3 separate regions of the Homo sapiens genome follow, and all the other regions are linked to region 1. Evidence: fine-mapped expression QTL. A gene starts in region 1. Each other region holds a variant in brackets. All regions are shown on one strand. Distances are from middle to middle. Region 1 holds the start of GLB1 (galactosidase beta 1). Region 2 overlaps GLB1 (galactosidase beta 1). Region 3 overlaps CRTAP (cartilage associated protein).

Region 1 (8,181 bases):
TTCTCATGGTCCCTTCATATTCTCCAGTATGCAGGGGGCTTTGCATCCAGCACACTCTGTCTGTGCATTTAAATGGGAACCAAACAGTACACTATGAGCAGAAGCATAGCCTTGTGAAAATAACTCAGGCCCTAACGTCAGGCAATGTAACTTTAGAGACTCTACTGCTCCCCAGCTCTGTGGCTACTGGCAAGTCATTTAACTCCTCTGGGTCTCAGCTTTCTCATCTGTGAAATGTGGATAAGAGCATGCAGCTCGGATTGGGAGGAATAGTGACACATACTGGTAAAGCATTCAGCACAACAATGGCTATTACTACTATTGCCATTTCAACTACAAACATAGTCAAATACTAAAAATCTCAGAAACAATCTACAATCTATATTCCTTTGGCAAGCTTATACTGTAAAGGGCTAGAACATAAATATATTCAGTTTTGTAGGTCCTAAGATCTGTGTTGCAACTACTCCATTCTACCGTTGTAGCGTGAAAGCAACCATATGCAATATGCAGAGGATTATAGGTGGCTGTGTTCTAAGAAAACTATTTATGTGTAATCTTGGCACTTTGGCAGCCAAAGTGGGCAGATTACTTGAGGCCAGGAGTTCAAGACCAACCCTGGCAACAAGGCAAGATCTTGTCTTTAGAAAAAAAAAAATTATTCAGGCATGGTGGCACTCGCCTGTAGTCCCAGCTACTTAGCTACTCAGGAGGCCGACATGGGACGACTGCTTCAGCTCAGGAGTTCAAGGCTGCTGTGAGCTATGATTGCACCACTGCACTCCAGCCTGGGTGACAGAGCAAGACTGTGTCTAAAAAAACAAAACAAAACAAAAAAAACAAAAACCAACCCCACAAAACTTTATTTATGGACACTGACACAGGAAACTTACAACATTTTCAAATGTCATAAAATATTATTCTTTTGATTTTTTTTCATTCATTTAAAAATGTAAAAACCATTTTTAGGTGGCAGGCCATAGAAAAACTGGCAGCAAATTGTGCCGATTCTTAGTAAAAAGAATTTTAAAAAGAAAAAGAAAAACAGGCAGCAGGCCAGATTTGATCCTCTGCCCTTAGTTTGCCAACTCCTGCTCTAAACCCTTTCTACCTCAGTTCAGTTAAAAATACCTATTGCATATGATAACCCTGAGTGTACAGAGTAGGAAAGAAGGTAGAAGAAGTTGAATCTGCCATGTGTTAAGGATTTTTGTTTTGTTTTGTTTTTAAACTTCGTTCTGCAATAATTTCAGGCTTAGAAACAAAAAGTTGAAAAAAAGAGTAAAAATAATTCCTTCATTGATTTTCCAAATGTTAACATTTTACCACATTTGCTTTTCTTTCTCACGTTCTTTTCATGCCTGGAATACCATTTCTCTCCCTCTCTCTCTCTCTCTTTCTCTCTCTCTCCATTTTTTTTTGTGAACTGTTTGAGAATCAGTTGCAAAGATGATGCCCTTTTGTTTCCTAAAAAACAAGGATGTTCTTTTATATAACCATTACCAAAATTACCATTACCGTTACCCAAATCAATACACTAATACAAAACTATTATTTAATATTTAGACCGTGTACCATTATCAAAATCAGAAAGTTAACATTGATGCGGCCGGGCACAGTGGCTCATGCCTGTAATCCCAGCACTTTGGGAGGCCGAGGTGGGCAAATCACTTGAGGTCAAGAGCTCCAGACCAGCCTGGCTAACATGGTGATACCCCATCTCTACTAAAAATACAAAAATTAGCCAAGCCTAGTGGTGGGTGCCTGTAATCCCAGCTACTTTGGAGGCTGAGGTGGGAGAATCACTTGAACCTGGGAGGCGGAGGTTGCAGTGAGCCGAGATTGTGCCACTGCACTCCAGCCTGGGTGACAGAGTGAGACTCTGTCCCCCCACCCCCCCAAAAAGGAAATTAACATTGATGCATGGTACTAATCTAACCTACAAGTCTAATTCTGATTTCATCAACTGTCCCACTAACATCCTGTATATACCAAGCTTCTTATCGTCATCATCTCTGGTAATTTCCCCAATTATCCAGTGAATTTGATATTATTAGCCCTGCTTTACCAACAAAGAAACTAAGCTCAGAGAGGTTAAGTAATTTGCCCACAGTTACACAGACAGTAAGTGGCAGAGCTGGAATTCCAACTCAAGTGTACTTCCTCCAGAGCCCTTGTTCTTTAATACTGAACTAGAATTGCAGAGCTTGGAAAGGACTTCACAGTGCAAGGACACGGAATTGGTACTACAGGCATGAAAAGAAGCCAGGCACGGTGGCTCATGTCTGTAATTCCAGCATTTTGGGAGTTCCAGGCAGGTAGATTGCTTGATCCCAGAACTTCAAGACCTGCCTGGGAAACGTGGTGAGACCCTGTCTCTACAAAAAATACAAAAATTAGCCGGGTGTGGTGGCGCACGCCTGTAGTCCCAGCCACTTGGTAGGCTGAGACGGGAGAATTGCTTGAGCCCAGGAGGCCAAAGCTGCAGTAAGCCGTGATTGCGCCCCACTCCAGCCTGGGTGACAGAGTGAGACCCTGTCTCAAAAAACACAAAAACAAAACAAAAAAACAACCCCCCAAACCAAAAAACAAAAACCTAAGAAAAGCCAGTAACTGATACTTTCTCAATCTCTCAATGAAATGTCCTTTCTGATACTTTCTCAATCTCTCAAGGACATGTCCGGTAGGAAAGGAGAAAGGAGTGAACAAATAGAATTTTGGCTACTTTGTTATACAATGTAAAAAGGCTTTTTGGAACACCAAGGCATAAACTAAGGTTATTTTAAAAAAGAAAATTTTTTTTTGATACGGAATTTCGCTCTTATTGCCCAGGCTGGAGCGCAATGGCTCGATCTCGGTTTACTGCAACCTCCACCTCCCGGGTTCAAGCGATTCTCCTGTCTCAGCCTCCTCAGTAGCTGGGATTACAGGCGCCTGCCACCACGCCCGGCTAATTTTTGTATTTTTAGTAGAGACGGGGTTTCATCATACTGGTCAGGCTGGTCTGGAACTCCTGACCTCAGGCGATCCGCCCGCCTCGGCCTCCCAAAGTGCTGGGATTACAGGCGTGAGCAGGATTTTCATTCTAACAAGTTCCAGGTGAGTTGATACAGTGGCTCCAGGGACCGACCACATTTTGCTAACCCCCGGCTTAGAGTTATTCAAAGAGCCCGTATATGAGACGCGGATTCCATCTAGGGCGTTTAGGTTTAATGATTAACAATTTCCCTCTTCTGCTCTCTCAAGGCAGCCAGGGAACAGGGAGACCATGATTCATGTCCAATCCCCGAGGCGCGTTATCAAGCTGCTGAAAGCAGGCCCTCCGGACTGCAGTTCCAAAGGGTCCCTTCCCAGGGAAGACGCCTGCAAAACCCAGATAGTACTATCCTGGAGTCACGCGGCGGCGCGCAGCCTCCTAGCCGCCCCCACCCGCCCGGCTCGGCCACAGCGGGGCGGGGCGCGGGGCTGAGCAGGCGCGAGGGCTGGCTGCTGGGCCGACGAGGGGCGGTGCCAGGCCGTGGGTCCTTAGTCAAGTGACGCGAAGCGGCCGGCCTGGGCGCCGACTGCAGAGCCGGGAGGCTGGTGGTCATGCCGGGGTTCCTGGTTCGCATCCTCCCTCTGTTGCTGGTTCTGCTGCTTCTGGGCCCTACGCGCGGCTTGCGCGTAAGTCTGCGGGACCCGGGTACGGGGAGGCATTGCTAGGGGACAGGCTGGCGGGGAACCGGGCTGGGGTCGCAGCCACCCGCGGTCCCGCAGGGCGGGGAGCCTGAGCCCCGAAGTGCCCCCCAGCAGGCTCGCGGCCGGCGGAACGCAGGCAGTGGACCGGCCTTCCCGTCGGGGGCGGGCCGGGCGGGGCGCGCGTCCTTCCAGGCAGCTCGGTCGCTTGTGCGTTCCGCTCCGGCCGCCCTTTGCGCTTGGATCCACTTCCCCATCTGTAACGAGGTGTTGAGACGAGGTGCGTGTAAACATTTCCTAAGTTGGCTTTCCGGGAGGGGATTCCAAGTTGCGCGGGTTAGAGGGTGCCTCCGGCTCTGGTTTGGGGCGCCCTCGCTTTCCCAGTTGGTGCTCTGCGGAGCGCTCCGGAAGGAGAAAAATGGGGTCAGGAGAGGCCCTTGCAGTGGGAACATTGGGTTATTTCCCCTCTGGGTGCTCTCCCTCTTCGTGCATCTTGTTCCTTTCTCACCACTCCCCGTCGCCTGCCCTTTGGCTTGGGTTTTTCTTTGTATTTGTGGGACCGTTTTCCTTCGGCGTTTGGGGGTCCAGGTTGAGGGGGGGAATAGGCAGGCTGCCGGGGGATGCCATCGTTGATCGGGGCAGGGCTGGCGAGGCGAATAGGTGAGGTGCGGGGCGTGCACAGTTGGTGGGAGAGGAAGGACAGCTTCACTCGCTGCGTCCGAGCTGAGGCGACTGGCTGAGGGGCTCCAAAGCGCTGCCTGGGGAGGTTTGCATCACACCTGCGGAAAGGAGAGTGGGTAGTTGCAAGCTGCTCCTCTGCACGTTCCGCGGACCAACTTTGGTTCCTCCAGGGTGTAGGTGGGCTGAGCCTGCAGTATGCTTTAAGTAAGAGCTGGTAGCATTTGACACCGTTGACTTGTAAGTTACACCCTTTAATAACGCTTTCAATAACGTGCCTAGGGCAGAGAAAAGTGGTACATTTATCTACAACCAAGATTGAACATCTTAAGTATTTGGAAAACAGCTGCTGAAAATGTTTTCATTTTGGGAAAAAGTCAGCACAGATTATTTGCTGCTCCCTCTTCACCCCGTCTGTGGTTCCCCTACCCCAGTATGTAGACAGAGTTTTCTTGTCCAGAAGGCCCGTAGGACCTTAGGAGTCAGAGCTAGCCAGCTGTGAGAACCACTGGGGAAGGTGGAACTGGGGCACAGTTCAGGAGAACAGTGGCAGGGTAAGGGGCTAGGGGAAAGGCAGATCTTAACCAGTATCTGGGAGTGGGGGTAGGGAGAGAGAGAAGGATTTATGAACCAGGAACAGGTGGACAGGGTCAATCTGTCTGATGTGAGCTCATCAGTCTTGTGCAGCGTCATTGGGTCAGGGTGGATGCCCTGTGGCTGCCATACCTGAGGCCCACACAGGGAGGCTGGCATCACCCCAGGAATTCTCATTTCAGGTGCCTAGGTGTCCCTCTTGGGCTTCTGTGCCCACAGCTAAAGAAAGATACCAGCAGTCTAGCTTTCCATTATCTCCTTGTTTACATTTCTTTAGGGTTCACGCCATTCTCCTGCCTCAGCCTCCCGAGTAGCTGGGACTACAGGCGCCCGCCATCACACCCGACTAATTTTTTTCTTTTTTTGTATTTTTAGTAGAGACGGGGTTTCACCATGTTAGCCAGGATGGTCTCGATCTCCTGACCTCGTGACCCAGCGGTTCTCAAATTTTAACTAAATTTTAGCTGTCCTAGAAATTAAGAGAATATTCCTTTTTTTTTTTTTTTTTTTTTTTTTGAGACAGAGTCTCGCTCTTTTGCCCAGGCTGGAGTGCAGTGGCACGATCTTGGCTCACTACAACTTCCACCTCCCAGGTTCAAGTGATTCTCCTGCCTCAGCCTCCCGAGTAGCTGGGATTACATGCATCCACCACCATGCCTGGCTAATTTTTGAATTTTTAGTAGAGACAGGGTTTTACCATGTTGGCCAGGCTGGTCTTGAACTCCTGACCTCAGGTAATCTGCCTGCCTCGGCCTCCCAAAGTGCTGGAATTATAGGCGTCAGCCACTGTGCCCAGCCCTAGAGAATATTTTAAACTATTTGTTAAGAAATACTACATCATTACACGTTAATAAACAATATATATATTTGAAAAACAATAGTATTTCTCCCCAAATTTTAGGGTGAAGAGTTGCACTGTTTTACATTTCTGCAAATCTCTTTCAATGTCTCTTAATAGAAGACAGTCAAATTTTCATGTTTATTTCTGCATTAAATCTGTTGCCATATCACATGTCACATAGCCTCTGGAAGACTCCACCCCCTCAGGACAGAGTGAGAATGGAAAAGGCAGTAATGGCTTGGAATTATAATAAAAATAGTTTTGACTAATTGGACCCCTGAAGGGCTCTCTCCAGACCACACTTTGAATACCGCTGATTTGGAATGTTTTTATAAAACAAGTACATGCTTACTGTAGAGAAACTTTAAACGTATAGAACATGTGGTAAGAAAATGAAAACTGCCCATCATGTCACAATGCTGTGAGTTTCTTTTTGAATAATAAAGTATAGCTAGCAACTGACTGGTATTTGAGTAGCTTGGATTCAAGGTGGGTTGGGCAGATGTAAGTGGCCTTTGAGTTTTGAATGGGTACAAGGACACTCTAATATCCCACAAAGCTGATGCTGGTTCCTGGTTGCAGGCGGAGTTGACCTGGAAACCTCTCCTTGGCCACTGTCCTTTCTAAGGAACTCATTTCCAGAGTCCACCAGCACAGAACTGGTGGGGGAGCCTACTAGGAGCAGAGAAAATGGCCATCTTCAGGCAGCTGTCCCTAGGCGCGAAGGCCACCCTGGCTGCTGTCACTGTCTTCGTGTCCATGATCGCCTCCCGCTCGTATCTGGCAGAGAGCCTTGAGCTCAGGGCCTGGCGTTGGCTGCTTCGCTTGCAGCTTGCCCTGTTTGTCAACTCGCTCTTGCTCATTGGCTCCCTCTACATTTGGCGCAGCACAGTGAGCAACCTCTGCCACTCCCCAGCTGCAGAGTCAACCTGTTTTCAGCTTTGGAAGGTGGTGGTTCTGGCATTTCTGGCCCTGGCCCATTCCAGTTTCTTTACCATGTTCTTTTTAGTGGCCGAAGAGCCCTATCTCTTTTCCTTGGCGGCCTACTCCTGCCTGGGTGCTTACATCATCATGCTCTTCTTCCTCTTCATCCTCAGCGGCATGGAGCAGGCCTACCAGCTCTTGGCCTGGCGCAGTGGTAGGGTCGTGGGCAGCCTTGAGAAGACAAGGAAGCTCGTGCTCAGGCCTGCCCTGGCAGTGGGAGTGACTGCTGTGCTCAGCGTGGCCGGGATTCTGAATGCCGCGCAGCCCCCGGCTGTGAAAACTGTGGAGGTGCCCATCCATCAGCTGCCTGCCTCAATGAACAACCTCAAGATCGTGCTCCTCTCAGACATTCACTTGGGCCCCACAGTGGGCAGGACCAAGATGGAAATGTTTGTGAGGATGGTGAATGTGCTGGAACCAGACATCACGGTGATTGTGGGTGACCTCTCCGACTCAGAAGCCTCGGTCCTGCGGACGGCTGTCGCTCCTCTGGGCCAGCTTCATTCACATCTCGGTGCCTACTTCGTCACAGGCAATCATGAGTACTACACGTCAGATGTCAGCAACTGGTTTGCACTTCTGGAATCCCTGCATGTCCAGCCTCTTCATAATGAGAACGTGAAGATTTCCGCCACACGGGCCCAACGTGGTGGTGGTGGCAGTGGCAGTGGGAGTGAGGATGAGGACTGGATCTGCTTGGCTGGGGTGGACGATATTGAAGCAGACATCCTGCACTACTCTGGCCATGGCATGGATCTTGACAAGGCCCTGGAGGGCTGCAGCCCAGACCACACAATCATCTTGCTAGCTCACCAGCCCCTGGCTGCCAAGAGAGCTCTCCAGGCTCGGCCAGATATTAACCTGATCCTTTCTGGGCACACACATGCTGGGCAGATCTTCCCCTTGAACGTAGCAGCCTATCTCCTGAATCCCTTCTTTGCTGGTCTCTACCAGGTGGCCCAGGCTACATTCGTGTATGTCAGCCCAGGCACAGCCTACTACGGGATACCCATGAGGCTGGGTAGCAGGGCCGAGATCACAGAGCTCATCCTGCAGCGGTCTCCCTGAACTGGCCCTGCCCTGTGCACCTCTGCCCTGCCCTTGTCCTCGACCCTCCATCCTGCTTCAGAGTGGTTTGCCTGCTTTTCCCCTCCAGCCTTGCCCACTCATCCTTGCCTACACACCCTTGGTCACAAGCCTGACTCAAACAGTGACTTATGGTGGGCCTGCCTGGCATGTTCAGGCTGGTTTAACTATTTCCTTGGCCAGTTGCTTTTTTTGATGCACTTGTGAGATCACTAAGGTCACATATATTAGCACTCCCCTCTATTTTCCAGATGATGTGGAATGGGGACCTTCTCCTGCAGAGCTCCCAGGGATGAACCTCCCCTCGGGGTTGCTAGAAAGGC
Region 2 (8,181 bases), 56 kb after region 1:
GTTTTTTAAATTACTGGAAATAAGTACTTTCCTGTTTTTTTGATTTCTAGTCTTTTTGCATTCTGGTTAGAGAATATAGTCTGTGATACCAATCCCTTGAAAGCTGCTGAGCCTAGTCTTAGAGCCTGACATACACCAATATTAATGGTCAATGTGCGCATAAAAAGAAAGTATATTTTACAGTTGTTGACTATATTCTACATACATGTTCATCAGATTAAGTTTATTAATGGTGCCATTGATATCTTTGATCTGCTTCCTAATTTTTTGTCAGTTCAGTCTACTATTTAGTGAGAGTTGTCCTCATGTATTTCCCTTTGTAGCTCTGCCAGTTCTGAGGTTATGTTATTAGGTGGGCAAATTGAGAATTACATCCTTCAGTACTTAATAGTAAAGGGATTATATAACCCTCTATTTCTAATAAGGCTTTTTGCCTGGAAGCCTTTTTTTTTTTTTTTTTTCTTTTTTTGGTCTGTTATTCATTAACACCATTTACCTGCATACTTTTGCTTGGTATTTTTCTGAGGTATCTTTCCCAATGCTGTAATTTCATCCTTTTTATATCCTTTGTTCTGTTTACATGTGTCCCTTATAAACAGGATATAATCGAATTTTTAAAATATCTAGTTTGAAATTTCTTGTCTTTTAACTGATATATTTATACATTCTCATTCATTGTACTTCTTGATATACATAGATGAATTTCAATTATCTTATTTTATAATTTCTATTCGTTTACCTTTTTGGCTCTTTCTTTCCCTTTATTGCTTTCTTTTAGATTGAGGTTTTTTGTTTTGTTTTGTTTTTTCCTCTTATTTCTTTCCCCCCTCTTCTACTTTGGAAGTTATTCACTGCATTCTAATTTTTTTAGTGGTTACCATTTAAGTGTGACATCTATACCCCCAGAAAAGAACAACTCGTAGTACACAGCTCAGTGAATTTAGGCAACGGGAGCGCAGCCCTGTGACAAACACATAGCTCCCCGGAAGCCCCTCTAATGTCCCTCTCTAGTCATTGACACACATACCCATTCCTGAGCTCACAGCTGTCCTCACCTCTATCACCAGAGATTCATTTTGCTCGTTTTTAGGCAGCAAGTTCCTACAATATACACTCCTGTGTCTGGCTGTCTTGTAATAGTTTAAAATTAATCAATATCTTTACTTTCTCCATATTGCATCCCTCTTTAACTTACTGTAACTCCAATTACAGCCCTCTTGATTTGTATGTTATTATTGTCATGTATTTTAATTCTCTGGGTTTAGTTTTCATGTATTTTAGTTCTCTCCTTAAAAAATAAAACCCATGGGGCATTACTACAATGGCTTCAGATAGTATTTCACTTGACCCACATAGTTCATTTATTGGCAAATGATTTAACAAACATTCATCAAGTACTCTGCATGCGCCAGGTTGCAGTTTTAGGTGCTTGGTGGCTGTAGGCTTTCCTGAAAAGGTGGAGCTCAAACAAAAATTTTAAGGTGGTGAGAGAGCCATGTGGCATATCTCCGCCTGGACAAGAGCATTCCAGGCAGAATGCAGCCAGTGAGAACTTGGGAAGGTATATGGCATTTTTAAAGACTAGCAAGGAGGCCAGTGTGGCTGGAGCCCAGTAAATGAAGGGGTAAGAAGTAGGAGAGGCTGTGCGCGGTGGCTCACGCCTGTAATCCAAGCGCTTTGGGAGGCCGAGGCGGGCGGATCACGAGGTCAGGAGATCGAGACCATCCTGGCTAACACAGTGAAACCCCGTCTCTACTAAAAAGACAAAAAATTAGCCGGGCATAGTGGCGGGCGCCTGTAGTCCCAGCTACTCCGGAGGCTGAGGCAGAAGAATGGCGTGAACCCGGGAGGTGGAGCTTGCAGTGAGCCGAGATCACGCCACTGCACTCCAGCCTGGGCGACAGAGCGAGACTTGGAAAAAAAAAAAAAAAAAAAGGAGGAGATGAGGGGTCAGGGATATAGATGGGGAACAGATCACATGGAGCATTACAGGCCATTATAAGACTTTGGCTTTTACTCTGAATGTAATGGGAATCCATTGAGGAGTTGAGCAGAGCCGTTGTTAAAGCATTCTATTAAAGCAGATTCCAGCTGCTGTGTTGAGATTAGACCCTGGGAGGTGCGGCAAGGGTAGAGTAGGAAGACCAGTTAGAAAGTTTTTGCAGCCATCTCAGTGAGAGGTGATTGTGGCTTATGAAGGTAGTAGGAACTAGGCAGTTTCAGAATATATTATGAAACTAGTGCTAATATAATTTTCAGATGGGGAGTATGAAAGAGAGGAGAGTCGGGTGACTCTAAAGTGTTTTAAATGGCAACTTGAAGGACAGAGTTACCATTTATGTGGGGGGAAGATCAGGAGTTCAGTTTTGGCTGTGCAAAGTTAGACTTGTCTAGTATATGTACTAGTGGAGATGTAGAGTAGGCAGTGGATATATGAATGCACAGCTTGAGACAAAGGTCTGGTACCTTTGTCCCAGGACCACACTTTTCTTTATCTTCTATTGCTTCTTCTGCCTGAAGTATATTCTTTAGAATTTCATTTAGTAAGCAAGTTATATTAATTCTTCTTTGTCTGAAAATTTTTTTTTCACCCTCATTTTCAAAATGCAGTTTTTCTTTTCTTTCTTTCTTTTTTTTTTTTTTTGAAGACAGGGTCTCACTCTGTTGTCCAGAATGAGTGCAGTGGTGAGATCTTGGCTCACTGCAACCTCTGCCTCCCAGCTTCAAGCGATTCTCCTGCCTCAGCCTCCCAAGCAGCTGGGATTACAGGCGTGCATCACCACACCTGGCTAATTTTTGTATTTTTAGTAGAGATGGGGTTTCACCATGTTGACCAGGCTGGTCTTGAACTTCTGACCTCAGATGATCCATCTGCCTCAGCCTCCCGAAGTGCTGGGATTACAGGTGTGAGCCACCATGCCCGGCCTCAAATTGTAGTTTTTCTAAACTGATAGTTTTCTCTCAGCATACTGACTTTGGGCTTTTATTGTTGCTGCTGAGAAGTCAGTTTACTGTACTCTGTCACTCTCTTGAAGATAATCTATCTTTCCTCTTGGACAGCTTCTGAGATTTTCTCTTTATATTTGACGCTGTATAGTTTCTCTGTGATGAATCTAAGTGTGACTTTCTTTTCGTTTATCCTGCTTGGTAGTTTTGGAACTTGTGGCTTGGTATCTTTTTTCACTAGTCCTAAAAAGTTTATGCCATTATGTCTTCAAATATTT[A/G]TTTCTATTAGATAATTTGTTAGACCTTCTGATTCTAGCCTTCACAGCTCGTAATCTCTTTTTCTCTGTGCAGCATTCTGATTGTCTTGAAATATGTTCTTCAATTGTTGCTTTCTCTTTAGTAGCTATAAATTCTAAGATTAAAACCTTTCCATTGAATTATTAAATTATATTTTTCATTCTATAAGTTCACATTAGCAGTTCGAATTTTACTCAGCCATTTTTAAATTCTCTTGCTTTTTCCTTATGTATACATGTTCTTCTTTTATTTCTTTAAACATACTAGAGATACTTCTGTTATATATCTCTATTTGATCATTTCAGTATGCAGAGTCTTTCTTTGTCTCATTCTGCCTTTTGTTGTTTCTGTGACCTCTTGTTCATGGTGTCTTGTTTCTGCGTGTGTGTTGTGATTTTGACTGAGCTGAATTTCTTGGAACTTTTTGTTGTTGTTGTTGTTGTCATTGTTCTTAGAGACAGGGTTTCACTCTCGCCCAGGCTGAGTGCAGTGGTGCAGTCCTGGCTCACTGCAGCCTCAACCTCCCGGGCTCAAGTGATTCTCCTGCCACAGCCTCCTGAGGAGCTGGGACTACAGGCATGTGCCACCATGCCTAGCTAATTTATTTTTTATTTTTTTTTTGTAGAGCCAGGGTCTCACTATGTTGCCTAGGCTGGTATTGAACTCCTGGGCTCACTCATGGAACTTTTATCTTTAGGAATTATTTGAGATTTGGGGTGAATGTGGGTTCTTCCAGAGAGAATTAGCATTTGCTTCTGGCAGGTACCAGGGAACATTACGCCTTAAATTAAAATCTTAAATTGAGGGATTTTTTTTGTACTACAGAAGCAGTGTGAATTTTAGCTACAAAATATATCAGAGGGCTGACTGTGCATATGAATTTTCAAAGGAGATTTATTTTCTCCCTACCTATTGCCATGTAACAAAGTACCCCTAAACCTAGTAGCTCAACATAACAAATATTTATTATATCACAGTTTCTGAGGGTAAAGGATCTAGGAACAGCTTAGATAGATGTTATGTCTAAGCTACTCCTAGGGCTATTTTTTTATTTCTATCAGTTTATGCAGTCTTAAAAATCAGCATTTTCAAAATACCATTCCATATTTGTATGTATGACCTCCATCATTTCTTTTGAAAAATCACCTGTCACTGGTTTTCCTTTGATGGTATAGGTCTTTTTTTCTCTAGTGCTTTTAAGATTTCCTTTTCATCTTTGATTTTTAGGAATTTTCCTATGGTATGCCTATGCATAGTTTTCTTTATATACATCTTGTTTGAGGGTGTTTGAACTTCCTAAATCTATGGCATTATTTCTTTTGTGGATTTTAGAACATTCTTGGCTGTTATCTCATCCAATGTTATGTTTACTTCGTTCTCCCACCTTGCCTTTCAGAACACCAGTGATATGTGTGTTAGACGTTTTTTCCTGTGTTCTGTGTATCTCCTAAGCGCTTCCATTGTTTCTATCCTTTCCCCCGAACATATTTTAGTTTAGATTTTATTCTGACCTATCTTCTAGTTTATTAATCCTCTTTTCAACTGTCTGAGTGAAACCCATATTATAGACTCAATTTCAATGATTGCATTTGTCAGTTCTAGAGCTTCCATTAGATTTTAAAAATTGTTTCCAGTTCTCTGCTGAAATTCCTCATCTTCTTTTGTTGTATGTCTATTGGCATAATTTTAAGCTTTCTTCAGATTATTCCAATACCATGATGTCTTATGGGTCTGTTTCAATGGCTTTTTTTTCCTTTTTTTTTTTTTTTTTTTGAGACAGAGTCTTGCTCTGTTGCCCAGGCTGGAGTGCAGTGGTGTGATCTCAGCTCACCGCAACCTCCACCTCCTGGGTTTAAGTGATTCTCCTGCCTCAGCCTCCTGAGTAGCTGGGATTACAGCTGTGCACCACCACACCTGGCTGATTTTCATAGTTTTAGTAGAGATGGGGATTCACCATGTTGGTCAGGCTGGTCTTGAACTCCTGACCTCATGATCTGCCCACTTCGGCCTCCCAAAGTGCTGGGCTTAGAGGTATGAGCCACTACGCCCGGCCCTGGCTTTTTTTTCTATTCGTTTTTGATCAGATAGTGTTGTCTCCTATATGTTGGGTTTTTTCTCATCTAGAGGTCAATAAAACAAAAAAGAAAGAGATAATTTGGGTTATATATGTTTTTTCTTCCAAAAGAGATTTACTTTTACTTCTACCAGGCAGTTAGAGTAGACAGAGATCATCTTCATGCAATCAGGGATTAAGCTAATTTGAAAGTGGGCTTCTGTCTTCTTGAGGGTTGGTCCGCTTCTGGTTCACTTTCTTAGGGGTCTCAACTGAGAGCTTGAAGTATTTACCAGGGTTCTTTCTCCGTTCTGATCTCTGAAGTCCAATTTTTATCTTCTCAGCCCTAGAAGACTCCCAGAAGTTGTGTTCGGCTTCTAGCCTCTCAGTTGGCCCTTGTGAATTGACAAATACCTTGATGGGAAAACTAGTAACAAATATCAGACTTGCATCATGACATTTTCCATTTTTTTGGAATTGTAACCACTTAATTCCTTTCTGCTTTGGTAGCTTTCTGATGCTTTCAAAAAGATATTTTAAAACATCTTGTACAATTGTTCTAGATGTTTTCCACAGCAAGATTTGTCAACAAAAACCTAGTTTCAGAGATTTACTTACTCCCTAAGAGATTCTCCAGAATTTGCTATACACAAAGGTGTTAACCTTCAGAGCACAGGGCAAACCTTTCACAAATTATTTTTCTGAGATCTGTCGATCATCCACTTAATCATTATACAAACATTCAACACCAGTCTTACAATTTCCGTGTTAAATGCTAGAGGTGAGTGATAAGTCTACCATGGTCCTGTGTTGGAGGGGCTCACAGAAGAGATAAATTTGAATTTTTCTCTTTAAGCATCCCTCTTACTCCAGAGTTTCTCCAAATAGAATGAAATCATCTTTAAGCAAGTTTTAAAGATATGGCAGATATGCAATTTGTTACCTCTCTCACCAATCTGAGCCTTTTTTTTTTTTTTTTTTTTTTTTTTTGAAGAGTCGCCCAGTATTGTGTGAGAGGTAGAGTCACAGATTGGAGAAGCTTTGGAGAGAGACAGAACAAAACTTGAGTGTTGACTCCAGTACTCAGTGGGCAAGGTACCCTCCTTCCACATCTGTGCAATACGGTTAGCATGTCTTCTCAGAGAATAATACATAGCAGTTATTTTTATTACTGTTTTTCTTCACTTATGTCATTGTAAAATTTCAAACTAGAGTTAAATATTCCCCTGGAAACTTGTGCCCACTTATGCTCAAAGCCTCTGTTGACAGTGCCCTTTAGTAGCTGCAGTAATCACCATTGCTCAATTGCTCCCAAGAAAATCAAGGAGGAAGTATTATTCTGCCATTCTATTAGTTTTTATGTGGTGTCCAGACCCAAAGGGTATCCTGTTACAGAGAGTGTGACATGAGCACTGTAGTTTTTTCTAGGTAAGAGTTACTGTTCCATGTTTAGTTTGGGTGTCTTCTATCAGCCAGGACTACTGATTTACTTGATTTGATTATAATGCCTGTGGACTTGTTTCTTTTATAGACTATTGCTTCATTTCACAATCCACTTCAGGTTTATTTATTTTCTAAACAGATTTGTTGAGGTATAATTCACATACATTTCTCCCATTCAAAGTACACCATTCAATGTTTTTTGTTATATTATTAATTTTTTAGGCCAGGTGTGGTGGCTCATACCTGTAATCCCAGCACTTTGGGAGGCCGAGGCAGGCAGATCACCTAAGGTCAGGAGTTCGAGACCAGCCTGGCCAAAATGGTGAAATCCCATCTCCACTAAAAATACAAAAATTAGGCTGGCATGGTGGCGCACACCTGTAATTCCAGCTACTCGGGAGACTGGGGCAGGAGAATCGCTTGAATATGGGAGTCAGAGGTTGCAGTGACCTGAGATCACACCACTGCACTCCAGCATGGGTGACAGAGCAAGACTCTGTCTCAAAAAAAAAAAAAAATTAATTGTGGTAAAATATATATAAAACAAAATTTGCCATTTTAACCATATTTAAATGTAAATTCAGTGCCATTAGTTATATTCACAATGTTATACAGCCATCACCATTATCTATTTTCAAAACTTTTTCTTCCTTCCAGACAGAAACTCTGTAACCATGAAGCAATAGCTCCCCAGTCACCCTCTCCTCAGCTTCTAGTAGCTCCTAGTCTACTTTCTGTCTCTGTGAATTTGCCTATTCTAGATATTTCATATAAGTGGCATCATAAAATATTGGTCCTTTTGTATCTGGCTTATTTCACTTAGCACAATGTTTTCAACGTTGTAACGTGTCAGAATTTCATTTCTTTTTATGGCTTAATATTCCATTGTATGCGTATATGATATTTTAATTACCTATTCATTTTGTTCATCTGGTGATGACCATTTCAGTTGTTTCCATCTTTTGGCTATTTGAATAATGCTGCATTGAACATCAGAGTACAAATATCAATATGGATAAGTCTCTGCTTGTCATTCCTCTAGGGACATACCTAGAAGTGGAGTTGCTGGTAGGCTTATTTTTAGAATTATTTTCTTTCTGAAATAGTGAACTTTCCTAATGTGGAAAAAATCAAATCAAGTTTTAAAACACATATTTACATAAGCTTTATTGCATAAAATATCACTTTACTTTTGGCCTCATTATAACAGCACATTTTTATTCTCTCATACTTCTAGCTACTTCTTCCTGCCATCCCCTATCCCTGAAACTCCACACACTTTTCTTGACCTTCCCTTGCTCTTCTGATCGATGGCTGGGATAATCTTACACCATCACCCTCAATCCTTCTGTATGCAGCTGTTTAAGAGGCCCTGCTCTATGAACCACTGCTGGGACCATTCTGACTGTCACACTCTGGAACCAGAGCCAGGCAGAAGAATT
Region 3 (8,181 bases), 55 kb before region 1:
TTAATTTTAGCCATTCTGGTGCTATGCAGTGGTATCTCATTATGACTATAATTAACATTTCTCTCTTACTAGTGAGGTTGAGCATCTTTCCACATGTTTAATGACTAATCTGATATCTTTCTGGTGATGTCCCAAGTCAACTATCTTGCCAATTTTTCTATGGTTTGTCTGTCTACTTAGTATAGATTTGTGGGAGTCCTTTTTAAATTCTGGATACAAGCCCTTTGGAGGTCATATGTGTTGCAGATAGCTTCTCTAACTCTGCCTTGCATTTTAACTCTCTTTGTGGTAGCTTTTAATGAACAGAGGATCTTCATTTTAATGTAATCCAGTTATCTGTCCTTGTGCCAATACCACAGCCTTAAAAGGTAATGCAGTTTTATAGTAAATCTTGAAATGTTTTGCATATGTCTTCCGGCTTTTTCTTTTTCAATATCGCCTTGTCTATTCTTACATTGCATTTCCATAAACTTCCATCCATTGCATTTCCATAAACTTTAACATTCAGTTAATGTCTGAGATTTTTATTGGAATTGTATTAGATCTGTATAGATCGATTTGGACAGAATTGCCAACTTAATGATCTTGAGCCTTCTACTACATGATCATGGTCTATTCCTCCATTCATTTAAGTCTTCTTTAATTTTGCTTAGCAATGTCTTATATCATTCCATGTAGAAGTCTTGAACATCTTTTGTTAGATTTATTCCTATGTGTTTGGTTTTTTTAATGTTATTGTAAATAGCATCCTTTTAAATTTTAATTTTCTGTTTATTGACAATATTTAGAAATACAATTGATGTTTATATTTACTGTAGACCTAGTATCCCTAATAAACTCACATGTTTTTTGTTGTTGTTGTTTTTGAGTTGTTGTTTTTGTTGTTGTTGTTTTTGAGTCTCACTCTGTCACCCAGGCTGGAGTGCAGTGGTACGATGTTGGCTCACTGCAACGTCCGCCTTCCGGGTTCAAGCGATTCTCATGTCTCATCCTCCTGAGTAGCTGGGATTACAGGCATATGCCACCATGCCTGGCTATTTTTTTGTATTTTATTAGAGATGGGCATTCGCCATGTTGGCCAGGCTGGTCTCGAACTCCTGGCTTCAAGTGATCCACCTGCCTAGGCCTCCCAAAGTGCTGGGATTACAAGTGTGAGCCACCATGCCCGGCCTAAGCTCAGATGTTAAATTTTAGTTACTTGTAATATTCATATGTAGATTATTTGGGTTTATCTATGATACACAGTCATATCATCTGTGAATAATAACAGTATTATTTATTCTGTCCCAGCCTTTATGCTTTTAATTTCCTTTTCTTATGTTCTATACTGGCTCTGTGCCTTTGGAGCTAATGAGGTTTTTTCCCTCTTTTCTTCCAGATGAGGCTGAGGCACACATTGACTATGAAGATAACTTCCCTGATGACAGATCTGTGTCATTCAGAGAGCTCATGGAGGATTCCCGGACAGAGGCAGATGAGGACAGGGGTCAGGGAGACTCCTCTGAGGAGGCTCCAAAACAGGACCGTCTGGTCTCCATTTCTGTGGGGAGAGAAAACATAGCCCGGGATAAAGTCTTTGTGCCAACCACAGGCTTGCCTGGTGCTGGGAGCAGTGTCCCCGCAGATTCACCAGGATCACGGCTGCTCCAGAAGCACTTGTTCTGGTTTCCTGCTGAGGCTTTCCACAAGCCTGGGTTGGAAAAGGAGGTGGATGATGACACCAAAAAGCAGTTTTCTGCTGGAGACAACCACAGTGGTGTAAAATTGGTCCCAGGTGAACCTGAAACCAAGGTGATCTACGGCAACACTGATGGTCCCTCGGGGCCATTTGTGGGCAAGAATGACAGCAAGGCAGGAGATCCAGTGGTGAGCAGCAGTGATGAGTCCTGGTTAGATGGCTACCCTGTGACAGAGGGGGCTTGGAGGAAGACAGAGGCAGAAGAGGAAGAAGATGGGGACAGAGGGGATGGGTCAGTAGGGCTGGATGAAAACGTCCTAGTTACTCCTGATCAGCCCATTCTTGTGGAAGTTAAGAAGCCCAAGAGTAGCACCCTCACACCAAGCGAGGGCATGACCCATAGTTCAGTTCTTCCATCTCAAATGCTAGATGTGGAAGCTTTGGCGCTCAGACCCGTGAATGCTTCCGAGACTGAGGGCATTGGGGATGGTGACTTGACGAAGTACCAGTCAACTCTACCCTGGAGATTCATCACAGAGGAATCTCCCATGGCCACCCTGTCCTATGAGCTCACCAGCTCCACCCTGGAGATATTAACAGTGAACACTGTCAAGCAGACACCTAACCACATCCCCTCAACGATCATGGCAACCACCCAGCCTCCAGTAGAAACCACTGTTCCTGAGATCCAGGATAGCTTCCCATACCTGCTGTCTGAAGACTTCTTTGGACAGGAAGGCCCCGGGCCAGGTGCAAGTGAGGAGCTTCATCCCACCTTGGAGTCGTGTGTGGGGGACGGATGTCCTGGCCTCAGCAGAGGCCCTGTGATCGCCACCATTGTCACCGTCCTGTGCCTACTGCTGCTCCTGGCAGGTGTGGGGATGGTGTGGGGCTACCGCAAGTGCCAGCACAAGAGCTCTGTGTACAAGCTGAATGTTGGCCAGCGGCAGGCTCGGCACTACCACCAGCAGATCGAGATGGAGAAGGTCTAGGCACCTTTGGAGTGGGTTCTCCCAAAGCCACTTGGGAGGAAAATAACTGTGACACATCACACGATAATTCACTAGAGCATGACGCAGGTGGACTGAGGCTCATCATTTTTTCCTCAGCCCTTTGTTTTATAGGCTGAGAAGTGTCTCTGGAGCACCTGGGAGGGCAGGGAGGCTTTGGTGACATCATCACTCATGTCAATGTCTCCTCCACCATCTGCCCTGGAATTGACTACACTAATCCCAGACCTGTGCTTGGGCCCTGTTTCCAGTGTGAGGTCAAAAATCGCCTCTTCCTTCATCACAGTATTATCTTTTTTTTTTTGAGACAGAGTCTCATGCTGTTGCCCAGGCTGGAGTGCAGTGTCCCGATCTGAGCTCACTGCAACCTCTGCCTCCCAAGTTCAAGCAATTCTCCTGCCTCAGCCTCCCAAGTAGGTGGGATTACAGGCATGCACCACCATGCCCAGCTAATTTTTTTATATTTTTAGTAGAGATGGAGTTTCACCATGTTGGCCAGGCTGGTCAAGAACTCCTGACCTCAAGTGATCTGCCCTCCTTAGCCTCCCAAAGTGCTAGGATTCCAGGTGTGAGCCACATCACAGTATTACCTTTTTGAAGAAAGAAAATCACCAGCTTCATGCCCTGAAATTTTATAAATAGTCATGATAAACCAAGTGTATGAGAGCAGTATTATCTAGGACATGGATATTGAATTATTGGGAGAGGAATATGGAAGAATAATGGGTTGTTTCCTTTTAATGTTGTGATGTTGCTGAGGGCAGATGAACCAAGAGCCAGGACACAGTCTAGAAGCTTTGAGGTTTCTTTTTTCATTGTTTCTTGAAATTAGAATTTAAGACTGACATTTTGTTGGGGGAGTTGAGGAGTGAAGAAACACACATCCCCCTCTGTTCCCTCCATTCTGTGGGACAGTCTGTCATTTATTTTATTTTATTTTCAATATTTCATGGTTAAGGATTTGCCATTATTTTTTAAAAACAAAGTTAGCTTTGTACCAGTAAGTACCATTTCCTCTCAGAAGCAGTGGCCTAGTTGTCCTTGACCAGTCTGTGCCTAGGAATGTCTTGGAATTTTTGCCAGGACTAACAAAACTCAGTCCTTGGTTTCCTCTCTCAGGATTAACCATTTCTCTGAACTCCAGTAAGAGAGAATGACACGGGAGAAAAAAAAAAGAAATGTTTTCAGAGGGCCGAACACCAGGTTATCAAGTATGGGCACATACTTGATGGAGAAGCAGAAGAATCTGTGAAAGAATATGAAATGATCTGTGCTGATCTGTTCTCTAGTGTGGAAACTGGGAGCTCTGTGGAAACAGAATCCATCCTGTCTGTTGGGTAACCCATTTCGTAGCATCTAAATCATCTTAGG[G/A]TGGCTCAGCGAGGATGGTTTATGGCAGTGGTTCTCAAAGTGTGGTCCTCAGACCAGTAGCATCAGCGTCACCTGGGAATTTGTTGGAGATGCAAATTCTCTAGTCCCACCCTGGACTCAGGAAACAGGAACCCTGGGAGTAGGGCCCAGTTCTGTTTTTAACAAGCCCTCCAGGTGATTTTGATATGCACTCAAGTTTGAGAGCCTGTTGGTTTATAATAATCTCAAATGTGAACTTCGAGGCCAGCTGAAGCCCTAAAGGCACAGATGAGTATGTGGTGTGTGTTGTGTGGAAGTCAGGCATGGCTGTGTGCAGCTGAGGTGGCATTTGAAGCTGCCTAAATGCCACCTGCAATAGTCTCCTGTATGTTGGCACAGAAATGAAACATGTTATATTTTTCTAATATGAATCACCTTCTTAGAAATAGTTATCAGTGGTAAAAAGTGATGAATGCAACACATTTATTTTGAGACACCATAGCAGTCTAAGTGTTTTTGTGTGGTAGAGGGAAATCCTGATCTTTTTTATGATTGAAAAATTGTTGGTGGTGTTTTACCTAAGGAAAAAAAACATTCGCAACATGTTTTCTACCCTGCCACCTCTTTTCAGCAAGCTTTGGAAAAGTAATAGGCGAAGTAGCTGTAAAGAGAGGCAGCATAATCAAAGATCTTATTCCCCATAGTTGGGTAAAATAAAGCCTGAAGGTACCAACTAGAATACCTGTGCATCAGACGAAGTCAAGAACAATAGGAATAAAATGCTTTCTGCATGTAGCCAAAGCAAAACATAATAGAATAAAAGCCAGAGACTGTATATATTTATAAATTAGATCCTAATCTACTGCAAGATAACTTTTCTATTTTTAACTATATAAAATAACCTCTGTCTCAGCATTGGGACTGTGTTAGCAACTATTATTGTGGAATAACCCAGAACATTGGATTTATACCAACAAATAGGCAATATTAATACAGTGTATTAATAAATTTATTACAAATTATTAATACAGTGTATTAATAAATTTATTACAAATTATTAATACAGGTAAATGTTTTATTTGTAGACATGGACTGTGAAATAAACCCAACACATCAGTTTTTAAGTTCTTATTGGTGTGGTATCCTCTAAATTAATGTTATAGAATCTAAAAATTCATGTTGAAAGGGAATGATTAAAACAATGTAAATCTAAATTGTATGTCATGCATGTTTTGAGAATGGTGAATGTTTAATGCTCATGAAAATTGGGGGAGGGGGTTCTATTAACACAAAGCTTCTGAGATATTTAAAATAAATAATTATTGCCCCAACAGTTGCTGAATGTATTTTATTTCTAGGCTACTGCACCAAGGTTTAAAAAAAGAAAAAAATTCTCGCTGGGCACAGTGGCTCACACTGGTAATCCCAGCACTTTGGGAGGCTGAGGTAGGCAGATCACTTGAGGTCATGAGTTCGAGACCAGCCTGGCCAACATGGTGAAATCTTTTCTGTACTAAAAATACAAAAATTAGCCGGGCGTGATAGCATGCTTGTGGTACCAGCTACCCAGGAGGATCAGGCAGGAGAATTGCTTGAACCCGGGAGGCAGAGGTTGCAGTGAGCTGAGATCATGCCACTGCACTCCAGCGTGGGGGACAGAGCAAGGCTCCATTCAAAAAAAAAATCTCTAGTAATCTTGAAAATAATGTCTTAATACTTGCTATATCTAAGATCTAAGACTGCCCTTTCTAAACCTAACTCTCAGTTATGTTACCTCCTGCAGCAGGATTTTAGGGAAGTTGGTGGCACTCTTGCCCCCCCCTCCCTCCCTACTTCCCTCTTCCTTGCCCCGCCCCCCCCTACTTCCCTCTTCCTTGCCCCAACCAGAGACCACTTACTTCACTGCAACGAAACACCCGGGACCTCGCTATTCAAAGTGTGGCTCCTGCCCCAGCAGCACAGGCACTGCGAGCTTGTTAGAAGTACAGAATCTCAGGCCCTGCCCCAGGACTGCTGAATCAGGATCTGCATCTAACAGGATGCCCAGGTGGTGGGCATGAATGGTAAAGCTTGAGAAGCACTGGCCTAAGAGAGAACTGATTATCCCCTTTCTCCTAACTCACAGGACACTCAAAGGAGTAATTAGAGGGTTAGCTGAAGGGACTGTTCACAAAGGTGTGGGGAAAGTTAGGGGAACCATCAGGGGATGGTGGGGACCTGTTATGGAACCCAACAAGAGCTCAGTAATAGGAAAGGCCCTGCAGGACAAGGGCTCTGGCCTCAAAGAGAATGCAGCCAGTGTCCAACTGTGGCCTGGAGGAAGCAAAGATTTTAAGGAACCAGACCTTGTCTCACCCTGCCATCTCTTGTTGGCATGTCCCAGTGGCAACTGGAAATCAGAGGGTGAAGAAGCCCAGGCAATGGAACCATAGAGGTCAGGCTTCTGGGACACCGGGCATGTTGGAGGGGCATGTTGGAAGAGATACGGAAGGGCAGCTAGCAAATCCAGCTCAGACGCCATCAGCACCAATCCCATCTGCCTTATGTCCATTTTTACATCCATGACCACCACAGATCCATGCCTCCCAAGCCTTCCAATGTTGTGGACATTGTTGATGCCCCTCCCAGGTCCCCTTTGCTAGGTAGGTGAACCTGTCTTCCAGCTGCCCTGAGTGTTGGCTGTTAAAATGCTCATAAGCACGTAAGTGTACCCTTCCAACGCAGAGAATTGCCCTTGGCCTATTGAGAGTTCCCTCACCCAGGAAGTTAGACCACGGTATACTCTGCTAGGGCAGCCTATAACCAATGACCAGCTGTCATGGGAATGCAAAAGGCTGGCCTCCTTTCCTCAAGGTGGGACCAACTCCGATATGATTCATGCTCCAGAGCTCCCATGAGATCAAGCTGAAGTCAGTCTCCAACTGAAGACACATCCTTACTGGCTCCTTCCTGCTTCTCTCACACCCCTTCTCTTGAGAGCACCCCATCACTTCCCTTGCTTCAAAGGATCCTGACCTAAGACATCCATCAACACTCAACTCTTACTCCCTACACCTCCTCTCCTCAGTCCAGATTTTTTCACCATAACCTCTGGAATTCTTGGGCTGACCTCCATGTCCTCCACCTCTTCTTCAGACAGCTGTTTCAACTCTCCATAACGTGGACTTCTTTTTGTGCTGGCTGGTTCCTCACTCTTTCCACCTGCTTCCTTCTACTCTTCTTTCTCCTGCCTGCCCTTTAGTGGCATGCATGGAGCATAGTTGCTGTTGACAGTCATGCCTGAAGATGCTTTGTGTCCCTGTTTGAAACAGATTCCAAATGTTTTTCCTAGTGGGATTCCAGATCTCCTCTGAAAGACAATCTTCCGGGGGAGAGGCATGAGCCTCTACTGCCTGACAGGACCTCAGCCAGCTCTTGGCTCATGGAGAGCAAGGACCACTCCTCTTGCATGAGATCCAGGAGTCCCTGGCTTGAAGTTTCTACTTTGTTAGATGAATGTCAGAAATTTCACAGACCTGAGAAAACAGAGCTCATTACAACATAGCTTCTAGAATGTGGTGAAGACATCCCTGTCCAGTGGATAGAATAGAAAATAGAGAATAAGCAATGTAAAACATTTAATGTGATTTAAAAAGAAAAACAAAAACCTTTTGTTTTCAACTATTTTCTAATTTTCAACAAGAGTGAGCTTGTACATACCACACTAACCCAAAGAGGGGAGGCAGAAAAAGACATCAGCAACGGTCTTTGGAGTTTGGCCTACTGGCTGCCACCCTAAAGTGGGAGATAAAACTCTGGAATCTATCTTGTATCTGTTGGCCAAATTGCTTAATTCCTTCCTATTCTCTTCTTGTAAAATGAGGCACTAATATCTTACCGGCCAGCTCCAAGGGGATATAGAGCCAACTCACTCATTCATTCAACAAGCAACGAAAGCCAGCTATTTGTGTGGGGACAGTGTCAGGTGCAAGGATATGTGGCTGTTCACGAGCCGGCCCTAGACGGAAAACACTCTAAGGATAACAATAGCTGCTCTTGATTCTTATTTCTGGGGTAGCAGTGGGTCAGTCAAGGCAAAGCCGGGCTGTCATGGTGTCCTCTTTCAGGGAGATGTCATGGGCACAGGCATGGGGATCAGTCTTG

The links. PIP is the estimated chance that this variant, and not a neighbour inherited with it, causes the effect.
Region 2: its variant is fine-mapped to the expression of GLB1 in whole blood (INTERVAL, PIP 0.91).
Region 3: its variant is fine-mapped to the expression of GLB1 in whole blood (TOPMed, PIP above 0.99).

The regions. Positions count from the first base shown.
Region 1 is chr3:33,092,493-33,100,673 of GRCh38, reverse strand. GLB1 (galactosidase beta 1) reads left to right here and starts at 3,528. Exons shown (of 16, transcript NM_000404.4): 1 at 3,528-3,663. The coding sequence starts at 3,589. It overlaps TMPPE (transmembrane protein with metallophosphoesterase domain), which reads left to right and starts at 3,528. Exons shown (of 2, transcript NM_001039770.3): 1 at 3,528-3,955; 2 at 6,371-8,181. The coding sequence starts at 6,479. The coding sequence ends at 7,840. RefSeq lists a silencer at 3,331-3,940.
Region 2 is chr3:33,036,125-33,044,305 of GRCh38, reverse strand. All of the region lies in intron 10 of GLB1 (galactosidase beta 1), which reads left to right. Among named protein-coding and RNA genes, the nearest start is that of GLB1, 57 kb to the left of the region's middle. RefSeq lists an enhancer at 7,660-8,181. The variant A/G (reference allele first, on the strand shown) is at 3,225.
Region 3 is chr3:33,147,231-33,155,411 of GRCh38, reverse strand. CRTAP (cartilage associated protein) reads right to left here. Exons shown (of 7, transcript NM_006371.5): 7 at 7,639-8,181. It overlaps SUSD5 (sushi domain containing 5), which reads left to right. Exons shown (of 5, transcript NM_015551.2): 5 at 1,379-5,369. The coding sequence ends at 2,670. Among named protein-coding and RNA genes, the nearest start is that of CRTAP, 37 kb to the right of the region's middle. RefSeq lists an enhancer at 1,398-2,597. The variant G/A (reference allele first, on the strand shown) is at 4,060.